2 separate regions of the Homo sapiens genome follow, and region 1 is linked to region 2. Evidence: fine-mapped QTL for protein levels in blood plasma. A gene starts in region 2. The other region holds a variant in brackets. All regions are shown on one strand. Distances are from middle to middle. Region 1 overlaps EFHD1 (EF-hand domain family member D1). Region 2 holds the start of EFHD1 (EF-hand domain family member D1).

The links. PIP is the chance, under the fine-mapping model, that this variant and not a neighbour inherited with it causes the effect. Protein levels are from antibody-based Olink assays in UK Biobank. Linkage for the fine-mapping came from a reference panel and not from the study's own genotypes, which makes the PIPs less certain.
Region 1: its variant is fine-mapped to the plasma level of the EFHD1 protein (UK Biobank, PIP 0.97).

Annotation. Positions count from the first base shown.
Region 1 is chr2:232,655,193-232,663,192 of GRCh38, reverse strand. It overlaps EFHD1 (EF-hand domain family member D1), which reads right to left. Exons shown (of 4, transcript NM_025202.4): 2 at 244-391. Among named protein-coding and RNA genes, the nearest start is that of EFHD1, 26 kb to the right of the region's middle. RefSeq lists an enhancer at 599-1,098. The variant A/G (reference allele first, on the strand shown) is at 4,419.
Region 2 is chr2:232,629,418-232,637,417 of GRCh38, reverse strand. It overlaps EFHD1 (EF-hand domain family member D1), which reads right to left and starts at 3,814. Exons shown (of 4, transcript NM_025202.4): 1 at 3,412-3,814. The coding sequence starts at 3,713. RefSeq lists silencers at 3,345-3,639, 3,717-3,776.

The sequences.
Region 1 (8,000 bases), 26 kb before region 2:
GAACATCGCCAAATTTCTTATTATTTTACTCAAATGAGGTTATACTACTACCCATGCTGCTTTTTCCAGGCCAGCACTGGGGTTAGCTGTCACCTAAAAGGTATTTTTGAAAGCGGAATTGCAGGTTAGATACGCAAACAGCGCTCTGGAGAGGCCAAACCCATTTGTGCTCCAGTGGGCTGTACACCTGAAGGTCCTCTCAGGGGCACCCCACAGGGGCTCAGGGCCACAGCAGGCAGGTACCTCCCGGAAGCTGAGCTTGCCATCGAAGTCCTCATCCACCTCCTTGATCATGCTCTTCAGGCCCAGGTGGGTCTGGGGGGCCCCCAGCTTCTCCATCATCAGCTTCAGCTCCATCAGGTCGATGAAGCCATCCCGCCCAGCGTCATACCTGCAGGGTCAAAGGAATGCATGACCGGGATGAAAGGACACTCGTTAGTCTCCGAAACATGTAATTCCTTTGGCTTCATTCATCGAAAAATGACTCAAATACCTCCCGCTCTGCGAGGCCAATGTGGGTCACCTGCTCCAGAGGAACCCCTCTCTCCTCAGAGCGCTTCAGGGCTTTGTATGACTCAAAGCAGATCTTGTACTACCTGTTGGTTTTCATGTCTTTTATCTCCTCAACTAAACCATAATTTCTGGAGGGTGAGAAACATGCTTTGTTTACCTTTATTTCCCCCAGTTTCAGTCAACAAACATCAAGCGAGCACCTCCTCCTAATGCTGGACACTGGAGGGGTTGCAGGAGCTGGCCCCTGACGCCCAGCACGTTCACAGGGAAGGGCTGGCAATTCCAGGAGCCTCCTCCTGGTCACTGCCCCTGGTTCTCTCCCACAGCCATTCCCAACAGCCCGCCTTTCCGTCCCAGGTCTAGGGAAGTTGCTTCCCACCCCTGTGTGCGGAATCATGACTCTGGCTCATGATTCCCCTCTGGTTCGCTCGTCTTGTCTCCAGCTCTGAACGGCCGTGTCTACCAAGAGGGCTCTGACTCTGTCCTCTAACAGGGCCACCCCTCTGCTGACTGGCCCCCCAGCCCCCAGCCAGGAAACAAACCCAGCTTCACCAGGTGGGACTGGGCCTGTCCCCTCCTGGCCCAGCCATCTTCAGCCCTGTGTGCTCTGCTTCCTCCAAGCCACTTCCCCCATTACAGGATTTCTCCACAGACCCCCTGGCTCTCCTCCCTTCAAGCATTTCCCGCCACCCAGAGACCCCTTGTTGCTCAGGTATGAATACCTTGCTCTAAAAACAAATCAGTTTACAACAGCCAAAAGGTGGAAACAACGCGGGTGTCTGCGGACAGATGAAAGGAGAAACGAAACGGGGTATATCCAGCCAGGCGTGGTGGCTCATGCCTGTAATTCCAGCACTTCAGGAGGCCGAGGCGGGCGGATCACCTGAGGTCAAGAGTTCGTAGACCAGCCTGGCAAACATGGTGAAACCCTGTTTCTACTAAAAATACAAAAATTAGCTGGGCATGGTGGTGCACGCCTGTAATCCCAGCTACTCGAGAGGCTGAGGTGGGAGAGCTACTGGGAGGCGGAGGTGGCAGTGAGCTGAGATTGCACCACTGCACTCCAGGCTGGGTGACAGAGCGAGACTGTCTCAAAAAAAAAAAAAAAAAAGGGGTGGTGGTGGGGGTATAGCCGTATATCCATACAATGAAATATAGTATGTTTATACAAGGGAATATTATTTGGCAATAAAAAGGAAGGGAAGGCTTATACACGGGTGAACCTTGAGGGCATTCTGCTAAGTGAAACAAGCCAGCCACAGAAAGGCAAATGCTGTATGGTGCCACTTCTGCGATGTTCTTACAGTAGTCAAATTCATAGAGACAGAAAGTGGATGATTGGTTGCCAGGGGCTGGGAGAGAGGGGCATGGGAGTTAGTGTTCAATGGATAGAGATTCAACTTGAGATGAGAAAAAGGTTCTGGCGATGGATGGTGGTGATGGCAGCACGATAATGTGAATGTACTTAATGATGTCCACTTACTTGGTTAAAGTGGTCAGAGGTTTTGTTTTTTTGTTTTTGTTTTTTTTTTGAGACAGAGTCATGTTCTTTCACTCAGGCTGGAGTGAAGCTGCACGATCTCTGCTCACTGCAACCTCCGCCTCTCAGGTTCAAGCGTTTCTAGTGCCTCAGCCTCCCAAGTAGCTGGAATTACAGGTGTGCGCCACCACACCCAGCTAATTTTTGTTTTGTTTTGTTTTTGAGACGGAGTCTGGCTCTGTCACCCAGGCTGGAGTGCAGTGGCACAATCTCGGCTCACTGCGACCTCTGCCTCCTGGGTTTAAGCGATTCTCCTGCCTCAGTCTCCCAAGTAGCTGGGATTACAAGTGTGTGCCACCACACACAGCTAATTTTTGTATTTTTAGTAGAGACGGGGTTTCACCATGTTGGCCAGGCTGGTCTCGAACACCTGACCTCACATGATCCGCCCGCCTTGGCCTCCTAGAGTCTTGGGATTACAGACATGAGCCACTACACCTGGCCTGGTCAATTTTATGTTAAGTGCATTTTACCACAATTTGTAAAAAATTAAATAAATAAGGCTGGGTATAGTATCATATGCCCACCCGTAGTCCCAGCTACTTGGGAGACTGGGGTGGGATGGTCACTTGAGCCCAGGAGTTTGATTGCATTCAGCCTGGGCAATGTAGTGAGACCCCATCTCTTAAAAAAATAAAGAGGCCTGGCGCAGTGGCTCACACCTGTAATCCCAATACTTTGGGAGGCCAAGGCGGGTGGATCACGAGGTCAGGAGAACAAGATCGAGACCATCCTGGCTAACACGGTGAAATCCCATCTCTACTAAAAATACAAAAAATGAGCCGGGCGTGGTGGCAGGCACCTGTAGTCCCAGCTACTTGGGAGGCTGAGGCAGGAGAATGGCATGAACCCAGGAGGCGGAGCTTGCAGTAAGCCGAGGTCGTGCCACTGCACTCCAGCCTGGGTGACAGAGCAAGATTCCGCCTCAAAAAAAAAATAAATAAATAAATAAAATAAAATAAAATAAATAAATAACACAAATTTAAAAATTAAAATAAGTAAATCAGGCTTCCTCACTGATCTGGTTTGGATCTGCATCCCCACCAAATCTCATGTCGAACTGTAGTCCCCAGTGTTGGAGGTGGGACTTAGTGGGAGGCGGTTGGATCATGGGGGTGGATTTCTCACAAATGGTTCTGCACCATCCCCTTGGTGCCATTCTTGTGATAGTGAGTGAGTTCTTGCAAGACCTGGTTGTTCAAAAGTGTGCAGCACTTCCCCGCTTGCTCTGTCTTGCTCCTGTTCCGGCCATGTGAAGTACTGCTCCCCCTTCACCTTCTGCCATGGTTGTAAGTTTCCTGAGGCCTCCCCAGAAGCCAAGCACACGCTGCCATGCTTCCGGTACAGCCTGCAGAACTGTGCATGAGCCAATTAAGCCACTTTTCTTATAAATTAGTTAGTCTCAGGTTTTTCTTTATTGCTGTTTGAGAACTGACTCATCCACTCATTACCCGTCTGCATTCTCCCCAACACAGCCTCAGTAACAAAAACCCACCATTATTGAGAACAACCACTACCTGCCAAGAAATGTAGCCTGTGGGCACCTAGGAATCTAGTGCTGTGGACTGGCAGTAGTTAAGGCTCCCAAGGTCAGGCTGGAGAGGAGGCCCAGGAATCCCTGACAGGCTCCCTTCCAGCCACAGTGGCCAACTTGTGCCATTCCTCTCACCCAGCCACCCCCTCCCTGCCCTCCTCTATGGTCCTCCTGTGCCCAGGAGCTCAGGGAGCCACCTGCTTCCCCCACAGCTCTCCAATAGCACCCACTGTCCATCCTTCTCCGGGACTTAGCATTCACCACCTTCCTCTGGTGGGTGCTTCTATTTTTATTTCTTGTGTTTTTTTTTTTCTCAGTGCCCTCACTTTAACAGTATGCTGGCTACTTCTTACTCAAGCAGCTCTGTGCTCAGTGCAGCCTCCTTGCTGGCAGAGCTACATTGCAAAGCACTAAAGGACACAGACAAGATCGCTGGGTGGCTGTTGGTGAGCTTTGAGGAACCGTGAAGGATGAGACAGGTGTTCCAGATCTGGAAACAAGCAAGGTGCTTCTGGGTTTCCCAGAAGTGGGCAGAGTATGTGAATCACAGATGCACCAGCCCAGGATCTAGTGTTGCCAGAGGACGGTTTGTGAGCACTTTAAGAAGGGAAGCAACAATTTCCATGGGTTCACTGAAAATGACTTGAGGATGGACCTCACTTCCCTGTTTTCTAAGTTTTTTTTAAAAAACAGCTTTACTGAGATATAATTAACATACCATAAAATTCACTGTACAGTGCATTAATTTTTAGTATATTCAGGTTGTGCCAACATCATTACCATGTAATTCCAGAACGTTTGCCTCACCCTAAAAAGAAACTGATACCCATT[A/G]GCAGTCATTCCCCACTCTCCCCTTGCCACCCCTATCCCCCAGCAACTACTAGCCTTTCTGTCTGTATGGATTTGCCTCTTGTGGACATTTTGTAGCCCAACAATATTCCACTGTATCAATATACCACACTTCGTTTCTTCACTCATCAGGTGATGGACATTTTGTTGTTTCCACCTTTTGGCTCTTATGAATAGTGTTGCTTTGAACGTTCATATACAAGTGTTTGGACATATATTTCCATTTTTTCGTGTATATACCCAAGATTGGATGCTGGGTCACATGCTTATTTAGTTGTGAAACGTTACTGTCAAGTTGATCTAACAGAAAACCACAGCTGACCTGATGTTACCACTCAGGGTGAGCAACGCCCTCTAGCAGGCAGGCTCTTATGGGGAAGAGAAGTATGGATACAATTAGGCGGACTGGCTGTTAGTTAAAGCCACCTGGAAAGGGTGCTGACTCTCAGATTCGCTGGTGACACAAAGTTGGGGCAGAATCTAGGCCCAAAAGATCTCAGCAAGCTGGTGTGATGTCCACAGATAAAATATAGCAAAGAAAAATGCAAGGTCCTGGCTGGGTGCAGTGGCTCATGCCTATAATCCCAGCACTTTGTGAGGCCGAGGTGGGTGGATCATCTGAGGTCAGGAGTTCGAGACCAGCCTGACCAACATGGTGAAACCCCGTCTCTACTAAAAATACAAAAAAATTAGCCAGGCATGGTGGCGCATGCCTGTAATCTCAGCTACTCAGGAGGCTGAGGCAGAAGAATCTGTTGAACCTGGGAGGCAGAGGTTGCAGTGAGCCGAGATCGCACCACTGCACTCCAGCCTGAGTGACAGAGTGAAACTCAGTCTCAAAAAAAAAAAAAAAAAAAGAAAAGAAAGAAAAATGCAAGGTCCTAAACAAAGAATTACCATAGGATCCAATGGAGTCTGGACACTAGTATTCTTTTTTTTTTTTTGAGATGGAGTTTCATTCTTGTTGCCCAGGCTGGAGTGCAGTGGTGCGATCTCAGCTCACTGCAACCTCCACCTCCCGGGTTCAAGTGATTCTCCTGCCTCAGGCCTCCCGAGTAGCTGGGATTACAGGCGCCCACCACCATGGCCGGCTAATTTTTTGTATTTTTAGTAGAGACAGGGTTTCATCATGTTGGCCAGGTGGGTCTCGAACTCCTGACCTCAGGTGATCCGCCTGCCTCGGTCTCCCAAAATGCAGGGATTACAGGCGTGAGCCACCATGCCTGGCTGACACTAGTATTCTTAGCAGCATTATTCACAGTCACCAAAAGGTAGAAACAACTCAAATGCCCATTGACAAAATGTGATCTATACAAACAATGGAATTTCATTCAGCAATGAAAGGGAAGTGAACTCTGACCCATGCTCACAGGCTACAACATGGGTGAACCTTGAAGACATTGTGCCAAGTGAAATAAGCCAGTCGCAAAAAGGGCACCTCATTGTATGAATTCACTTATCAGGTCCCTAGAGTAGTCAAAATCATCGAGACAGAAGTAGAATGGTGACTGTCAAGGGCTGGGGAGGTGAATGGGGAGTTAGTGTTGAATGGGGACAGAGTTTCAGTTTAGGAGGGTGAAGACATTCTGGAAATGGATGACAGTGATGGTTGCATAATAATGTCAATGTTGTTGCCACTGAACTCTATACTTAAAAATGGTTAAAAATGGTGAATTTTGCTGGGTGCAGTCAGGCTTGCCTGTTATCCCAGCACTCTGGCAGGCCCAGGCAGGAGAATCACTTGAGCCTAGGAGTTTCAGACCAGCCTGGGCAACAAAACAAGACCCCATCTCTACAAAAAAATTAAGAAAGTACCTGAATGTGGTGGCCCACATCTGCGGTCCCAGCTACTCGGGAGGCTGAAGGGGGAGGATCACTTGAGCACAAGAGTTTGAGGCTACAGTGAGCTGTGATCACTCCAGCCTAGGTGACAGCATGCGACCCTGTCTCAAACAAAACAAAACTGCTAAATTTCACATTATGTATATCTCACCACAATTTTTAAAAAATGCAAGGTACTGGCTGGGAGCAGTGGTGCATGCCTCCAATCCCAGCACTTTGGGAGGCTGAGGTGGGAGGACTGTTTGAGCCCAGGAGTTCAAGACAAGCCTGGGCAACATAGTGAGACCCTGTCTCTTCAAAAATATAAAAAAATTAGCAAGGCATAGTGGCATGTGCCTGTGGTTCCAGCTCCTCAGAAGGCTGAGGCAGGGGGATCATTTCAAGCCTGGGAGGTCGAGGCTGCAATGAGCTGTGCTCATACAACTGCACTCCAGCCTGGGTGACAGAGTGAGACTCTGTCCCAAAACAATTAAAAAAAAAAAAAAAAAGCAAGGTCCTAAAACTAAGACCCCCACAGACTGACTTTCCCAGCACAGGTTTTGAGAGAAATGGCGCTCACTTGCAACTGTGACCACACCTTCAGGGGACTGGGACCCTACAGTGAGTCAGGGAGGCTGCCAGAAAACTCATGGGCGAAATAAATCATAGTGGCAAGTACAAAAAGTCCTGAATCCTGAATGCAAGGGCCACAGTCCTACCCACCTCATCATGGTCTGCCCCACTCCACACAGACCTCACACTTCAGGGAGGCCATGGGCCTGGTCAGTGGGAAGCAGCCAAGAAGACGAATGGACTTAAGACCCCACACAGGCCGGGCACGGTGGCTCACGCCTGTAATCCCAGCACTTTGGGAGGCCGAGGTGGGTGGATCACGCGGTCAGGAGATCAAGACCATCCTGGCTAACACAGTGAAACCCCATCTCTACTAAAAATACAAAAAAAGAGCCGGGCATGGTGGCAGGCGCCTGTAGTCCCAGCTACTCGGGAAGCTGAGGCAGGAGAATGGCGTGAACCCAGGAGGCGGAGCTTGCAGTAAGCCGAGGTCGTGCCACTGCACTCCAGCCTGGGTGACAGAGCAAGATTCCGACTCAAAAAAAAAAAAAAAAAAAAAAGACCCCACACAAGGACAGGACAGGGGTGGAAGGAACAAGTGGGATCTGGCAAAGAGCTGCCTTCAGATGTTGCCCAGGGGCCCAAAGGCTGCCAGAACTGGGCTCTGTGCATGGAAATGGGTGAGACAGACTTTAGCTAAGTGCAAGGAAGTGCCTTCTGGCAAAACGGCCAACTGGAACTAGACCTGAGAAGTAAAGAGAGCTTGCACAAACCGGCTGGGAGGGACAGTCTCTGTTACACGGAGTCCCAGTCAAAGTTAACAGGTTCAGTGTGGAACTTTCCAGAGCCTTCCGTATGTGTCCAAAACTTACAAGAGGGAAACAGAGCACACAGACTCATCTGACCACACAGTCCTCTGCATTTGGGGATTTTCTGTTGAGAAGACGTACCTTGGCAATGCGGTTTTTCAAGGAAACCCTCTGAGAAGCACTTCTCTGGTCAAGTCAGCCTTAGAAGGGGTGGCCCAGTTAAATGACCACTAAGGGCAGGTACAGTGGCTTGAACCTGTAATCCTAGCTACTCCAGAGGCTGAGGCAGGAGGACTGCTTGAGCCCAGCAGGTCAAGTCCAGCCTGGGCAACACAGTGAGATCTATCTCTTAAAAAAGAAA
Region 2 (8,000 bases):
GAGCCAAGATCGCACCACTGCACTCCAGCCTGGGCAATGGAGTGAGACTCCATCTCAAAAAAAAAAAAAAAAAAGGAAGGCCATGTGAAGACACAGAAACACACACAGGGAGAGCACCAGGTGCTCAGGGTGGCAGAGATTACGGTGATGCGCCCATACCACAAGAAATACCAAGAATTCTGGCAACCACCAGAAGCCAGGAAACAGGCACAGAAGGAGTCTTCGCTGGCGCCTCAAGGGCAGCACAGCCCGGCTGACACGTTGGTTTCAGACTTGTCAGACTTCTGATTTCCAGAACTATGAGAGGATATACTTCTGTTGTTTTATGCTACCCACTTTGTGGCATTTCATTCAGGCAGCTCTAAGAAACAAACGACCTCACCCAGCAGCAGAGGAGCTAACGAGTTCCTTCCGCAGAACCCGGAAGGGCAAAGCACACAGTCCCACGGGGACCCGGAACTCACCAAGAGGCCAGGTCACCACTCCACAGCTCAAACTGTGGGCTAAATCAGGTTCAAAAGATAAAGTGGACTCAGCAAAGTGAATTATTAAACAAAAAAGGACAACACAAAATGTGTACTTTTTTTATTTTTTTGAGACGGAGTCGCACTCTGTTGCCCAGGCTAGAGTGCAATGGCGTGATCTCGGCTCACTGCAACCTCCACCTCCCAGGTTCAAGCGATTCTCCTGCCTCAGCCTCCTGAGTAGCTGGATTACAGGCGTGTGGCACCATGCCTGGCTAATTTTTGTATTTTTAGTAGAGACGGGGTTTCACCACGTTGATCAGGCTGGCCTCGAACTCCTGACCTCATGATCCGCCTGCCTCAGCCTCCCAAAGTGCTGCGATTACAGGTGTGAGCCACCACACCCAGCCAAATGTGCACATTTACCCAAATTATGGATATGTGATAATCTAAAAATTAGGGGCTAAAATCCACCTGGCCTTCACCATAGGCTGAAACATGGAGCTAAATGCATCACATACATGAATTAATTTAATCCCCACAATAACCCCACATGGCAGGTCCTGTGCTTTCCCATTTGACAGAAGGGAAAACTGATGGCACAGAGCTTTTAAATAAGCTGCCCAAGGAACCTTCCAGGGAGCAAGTGGTGGGGCTGGGGTTTGAACCCAGGAAGCCTGCCTCCAAGTGCTCACTCTTCACAGCCTCACAAGACTGCTGCTGCCATGAGTAAAATCTGGAAGGTAATCCAATAGAAAACAAATTGGTGTGTTACATTTTCTTTAGTGTTTTTAACATTCTTATGTTATTAATTTAAGCTGTTGTGGCCATACCACCACCACCAAGGATGAGCCATCTGAGAACGGGGACAACGCAGAGAGGAAGGTGGCTTAACAAAAAGAGAAACTAAGCACTGATGGCAGCACCTAAGCGCCTAGATCCAGCCACACCTGAAGCTAGTGATGGCTTTTTGGTTTCCTCAGCCAAATTATTCTCGTTTTGTTTATGCCAATTTTGGTTGCAAGTGACAGAAAACTCAACCTAGAAAGAAATACCAAGTACTGGTTGAACTGTTAGCTCTGCTGGGATCCCAGGCCACACACTGCCTTCCCCTTGGCTTTTTTTTTTTCCCCTTGAGACAGAATCTCCCTCTGTCACCCTGGCTGGAGTGCAATGGTGTGATCTCTGCTCACTGCAACCTTTGCCTCCCAGGTTCAAGCAATTCTCCCACCTCAGCCTCCCGAGTAGCTGGGACTACAGGCCCGCGCCACCACTCCCGGCTAATTCTTGGATTTTTAGTAGAGATGGGGTTTCACCATGTTGGCCAGGCTGGTCTTGAACTCCTGACCCCAGGTGATCCGCCTGCCTCGTCCTCCCAGAGTGCTGGGATTACAGCCGTAAGCCACTGTGCCCGGCTCCCCTTTGCGTGATCCTGGTCCAGTACCTGTTTGCTCACAGATGCCACCTTGCTTCGTCTCCCAAGACCCTCTGAGCATATGGACTCTTTTTATCACTCTTAGGTAGTCAACTACAAGTTGATCTTTCCAAAGATTGTTTTATAGGAAAAACAAAAGAAGCCTGAGTGGCCACAAGAAAACTTGAAGATAAAGGTCCCTCCCCAAGATCCCCTGAATCCAGCTGGACTGGGAGGAACTGGTGGGGTCTGGGAGCAGCCCGGCCAGGGCAGTCTTCCCATGAAAGGCATTACCCCAGAGAAATCAAAGGGCTCCAACAAACCTTGCCTCACCCATTGCTTTTCCATTTTCGCCCCAGCCGCATTCTTTAGCGCACTGGGCCTTCCTGAACTGCCCAAACTAGACCCAGAAAACGCCACAGATCAGTGCCTGGAAGCCAGACAAAGAAACCAGGGTGTCAGGGAGGCAGAGGAGGCGGAGGCTCCCAAGTGCCGGCTCTGCAAACCTCCATGCAGGGGCAGCGGAGGCTCAGGCGACGCAGCGCCAGTCACAGCGCCTTTAAATAGAACCTCCACGCGGAGGGCAAACACATTCCATGCGCTTTTAAAAACGCCCAAGCATGACCTGGCCGGCGGCCTCAGCTCCCCCAGGCATTTTTCCGGTCTCGGCTCAATTCTGGAAATATTAATAGCTCGGTTAAGAGCTTACCGGGTGCAAAATACTTTTCGGCCTTAAAAGGCAGGGACTGTTACTGCTCCCACTCTCCAGATGAGGAAACTGAGATCCCCGGAGGTTCCAGGCGACGAGGTGGACTAGTGGGTCTCTATCGCCTGCCTCTGGCTCAGTGTCTCCCCAGGTGAGCGGCTCCCCGCGCACTGGGGCTCACAGAGCAGGACCGCAACGAGCCCCCGCCGGACCGGTGCCAGCGGCCAAGTTCGGTTCCCACAACCGCCCCCCCTCCCCGCGCCCCCAGGAGGCTCCCGGGCCGCGCCTGCTCCAGGAAAGTCCTGAATCTCTTACAACGACTTTACCAAACTCCCCGTTCTCGGCCTCCGCTCATTCATCAGACCCCGCGCTGCAGCCAAGGATTAACTTTCCCCTTTTGTTTTAAAAGATAAAAGGCCAACAGGGGCTAATTTTTCCCTTGGGGGGATACAGTGAAAGCTGGCAGGTGAGGCGCGGCGACGGCTCCCTTTCCTAGAAGTTGCTTTCGGAGCAAATCTCCGGACTGGCGGGCGGAGGGGGCGGGACCAGTGGTCGGGGTTGGGGGACCTGGAACTCGGGCCCGGCAGCCGCCGAGAACTTTTGGGCTCCGTCCCGGAGAGCTCCTGCTCCTGGTGTCCCCCCTCTTCGGCCCCGTCCCCCACCGCGCCGAGATAGACCCGAGCACGCAAGATCTGGCTGCGTTGGGCCAAATGCTACCTGCACCCCGGGACCCCTCCCCACACAAACAGGGCCCGGGACTTCGGACCAGAAAGCCCTCCCGCTCCCTCCCTGGTCCCGGGGGCGAAGGGCGCGCAGCGGGAGCTCACAGTTTGAACATGCTCTCCAGGTCCTTGATGAGGCGGCGGCTGAACTCCGGGAACTCCGTGTAGGGGTTGAAGACCCTGCAGCGCCGGGGCCGCGCAGCGCCCTCGTTGATGTCCAGCCGCCGGCTCAGCTGGGCGCTCAGCTCCGCGTCGGCGCTGGCCGTGGGCGCACGGGCGGGAGGCTCGGGCTCGGGCTTGGGCTCCGGGGCTGGGGCGCCGAGGGGAGCCAGCTGGGGGCCACTCTCCTCGGCCTCCTCGCGCCGCAGCCGGCGCTCCAGCTTGCACGCCAGCTCCTCACTGGCCATGGCGGCGGATCGCAGGACGCGGGAACGCGGGGACGCGGGACGGGACGCAGGGAGCTGGCGGGCGGCGCGCTCCTCGCAGGCTCGAGGCTCTACAACACTCCGCCGAGGCGGCGGGGACCCGGCGGTTGGGAGGGTCTGAGGACGGACTGGCGGGCGGGGCGGTCGGGGCGGAGCTGCGGCTTTAAGGAGGCGCCAGGGCTCAGCGACTGCCAGCCTGGTGGGAGGAGGCCGCCGGTGTCTGGGTGTCTGCGCGTCCCGGAGACCCCGACCTGCTTCCTCTCCCCGCGGCTCCGGGCGGGAGGCTGACCGTCCCCCCGGGACCAGGCAGGGACCCTCGGATCAACTCCGACCTTGCTGCCCCTGTCAGCTCCGGGGAAAACCGTAGCGGGAAAAAGCGTCTCGACCGTTCAGACGGTGCCTTTCTTGTCCCCCAGAAGTAACCCGACTGGAAGCGCTCGCGGCCCGGGACAGGCTGGGTGGGGGAGGCGAGCGCCCCCGAGCGACACCCACGCGTCCCCCGCGTCTGGGAGTGGTGCCCACCCTCCCCGGGGTCAGGGAGTGGGAGGCGCCCGCCCGGAGCGTGGGGCGGGGGAGCTGCTTTTCAAACACTCATTGGAACGAAATGTTTCCAAAACATGCTAAAAATACTAAAAACAAATAAGCAAACAAAAAAGAGAGAGAGCAAACGAGCAGAAAAAACTCCCGTTTTCCCTAGAGGCAGGAAAGCAGCGTAGCTTCAGGGACTCGGGTTTTTTTGCGTGAAACGCACAAGAAAAGAGAAGAAACCTGGCGCGGAGACTCACATCCGCAATCCCAACACTTAGGTGTTGGTGGCAGGATCTTTTGAGCCCAGGAGTTCGAGACCAGACTGGGCAACATAGTTAGACTGTCTCTACAAAAACTTTTAAAAAATCAGCCAGGCATAGTGGCGCTCGTCTGTAGTCCCAGCTACTCAGGAGGCTGAAGTAGGAGGATGGCTTGAGCCCGGGAGGTCGAGGCTGCAACGAGCCATGGTCAGGCCACTGCACTCCAGCCTGGGCGACAGAGTGAGACCCTGGCTCTAAAAATAAACGAAGAAGAAGGAGGGAGAGGGGGAGGAAAAAAGAAAGGAAAGAAGGAAAAGAAGCTTGAAAATTAAATCAGCATTTTTAACAAGAGGGTAAAAACAAATACAGTCGTCATTCTCCCCAAGGAAGGCTGATGCCGCTGTTACATCAGCCAGGCGTTGAGAATCTTGTAAACACGGGTCTGTCCCCACTTGAGAACGACGCTGCTCTGACCCACCATGGGCTGATGACTGGGGCAGGTCAGTGACCCCGCTGGACTATGGTTGTCTGAGACCCAGGGACCAGCCTTTGGCATGCGAGTGCAGGGCATGCGGGGGACCTGGGTTAAAATGTTATTTTTAAAAAGTTATAAAGGAAAATACGTTTTTTAAAGAAAAGTATAAAAATCTTTAACATTCCTACTGAACAACTTGACTTGGTACAGAGAATACGGGTTTTACATATACAATGGCAACCCTGCAAATAGATCACGGGGCGCTACACTTCCTGACCTGGTGGTGGTGACTAGAAGGTTGGCTTTGTTGTCACATCTGTTTTGACCACTTTATGTGACACATTTCAGAGAAATAAGGTCAAAAATTTTGTGTAATTAAACTTTTTTTAATTTTATATTTTAAAAACTTTTTTTTTTTTTGAGATGGAGTTTCATTCTTGTTTCCCAGGCTGGAGTGCAATGGCATGATCTCGGCTCACTGCAGTCCCTGCCTCCTGGGTTCAAGTGATTCCCCTGCCTCAGCCTCCTGAGTAGCTGGGATTACAGGCGCCCACCACTGCACCTGGCTAATTTTTTGTATTTTTAGTAGAGACAGGGTTTCTCCATGTTGGCTAGGCTGGTTGTGAACTCCTAGCCTCAGACGATCCTCCCACCTCGGCCTCCCGAAGTGCTGGGATTACAGGCATGAGCCACCACACCCAGCTGGTTTTGTTTTTGTTTTTTTTTTTTTTTAATGTTCTTATTCCATCGAGCTCTCCTCAAGAAAGAAAAAGTTCAAAATTCTTAATAGTCTCCATCAACAAGAAACTCTGGGGCTGGGCGCGGTGGCTCACACCTGTAATCCCAGCACTTTGGGAGGCAGAGGCAGACGCATCACTTGAGCCCAGGAGTTTGAGACCAGCTTGGGCAACATGGCAAAACCTTGTGTACAAAAAAAGATAAAATAAAAAATAAAAATAAAATAAAAAACAACTAGCCAGGTGTGGTAGTATGCACCTGTAGTCCCAGCTATTTGGGATCACTTGGGCCCGGGAGGTGGAGGCTGCAGTGAGCCATGATCATGCCACTGCACTCTAGCCTGGGTGGTAGAGTAAGACCTGTCTGAGAGAGAGAGAGAGACAGAGAGAGAGAGAGAGAAAGAAAGAGAGAGAGAGAGAGAGAAACTTTGCATGAGTAGGTAATACAATTTTTTTTTTAAGACGGAGTTTTGCTCTTGTTGCCCAGGCTGAAGTGCAGTGGTGCGATCTCGGCTCACTGCAACCTCTGCCTCCCAGGTTCAAGCGATTCACCTGCCTCAGCCTCCCAAGTAGCTGGGATTACAGGCACCCACCACCAAGCCCAGCTAATATTTTATATTTTTAGTAGAGACGGGGTTTCACCATGTTGGCCAGGCTGGTTTTGAACTCCTGGCCCCAAGGAATCCACCTGTCTTGGCTTCCCAAAGTGCTAGGATTACAGGCATGAGCTACTGTGCCCGGCCAGTAATAGAATTTTTAAACCATTTTTTACATGCTGAAATTTACAACAGTTAGTGTTAAAAAAATCTAACAGCTCTTTTTATTTATGAATATAATGTTGAAAATTTTTTAAATTAAAAATGACTTTTTTTCTTTTCTTTCTTTCTTTTTTTTTTTTTTTTAATAGAGATGAGATCTCTCTATGTTGCCCAGGCAGGTCTTGAACTCCTGGGCTCAATTGATCCTATTTGCCTAGGCCTCCCAAAGTGCTGGGATTACAGGGGTGAGCCACGGTGCCCAGCCTTGAAAATTCTGAAATTAATGGGAGTGGATTGTGAACAAAATTTCACTTTTTCATTGAAGTGTTTCCAAATGAGGGAGTGCTTTTAGATAATGCGCTTGCATACTGTGAGCAGTCACCTGGTGCCTCTCAAAAGGCACATCATCTGCAAGGGGCAAAGATTGAGGGCTGTGTCCACCAGGCACCCAGCCTAGACAGAACGCCCTCTGAGCTATGTCCCGCCCCTGAGGGAAAATAGCACAGGCCCACAGTATTCACCAGGCAACACCTGGCCACCCCTCAGAATGAAGTGTTAGTATCTCACTAGTGACAATTCCAGGTGGTCACCGTTACGGCCACAGCCCAAAGCCTGTTCTCCTTCTCCTCTTTTCCGATGTCCAGTCGGGCACCTGACAAAGACTCAAACATGCTTGCTGGGCCGGCTGTGGTGGCTCACACCTATAATCCCAGCACTTTGGGAGGCTGAGGCAGGTGGAACATTTGAGGTGAGGAGTGCAAGACCAGCCTAGACAACATGGTGACAGCCCGCCTCTACTAAAAACACAAAAATTAGCTGGACATGGTGGCATGTGCCTGTAGTCCCAGCTACCTGGGAGGCAGAGGTGGGAGAATCGCTTGAACCTGGGAGGTGGAGATTGCAGTGAGCCAAGATCGAGCCATTGCACTCCAGCCTGGGCGACAGAGACCCTGTCTCAAACAAACAAACAAACAAACAAAAAACATGCTTGTTGAATCATGGGCCAATATCAATCTTACTGTACAAATATGACCCATGTTTTGTAAAACAAATATCTATATATGGAAAAAAAAAACTAAAGGGGGCAAATTATTAACAGTTATAAATGCTAAGAGTCCAGATAATTTTCATTTTCATTTTTTAAATTCTCATTTTTTTTTGGCCGGGCGTGGTGGCTCATGCCTATAATCCCAGCACTTTGGGAGGCCGAGGCGGGTGGATCACCTGAGGTCAGGAGTTCGAGACCAGCCTGGCCAACATGGTGAAACCCCATCTCTACTAAAAATACAACCGTTAGCCGGGCGTGGTGACACGCACCTGTAGTCCCAGGTACTCGGGAGGCTGAGGCAGAAGAATCGCTTGAACTCGGGAGGCGGAGGTTGCAGTGAGCCAAGATGGCACCACTGCACTCCAGCCTGGGAGACAGAGTGAGACTCCATATGAAAAAAAAAAGAAAAAGAAAATCTCATTTTTCTGAATTTCCTACAATGAATGTATAAAACTGTAATCAG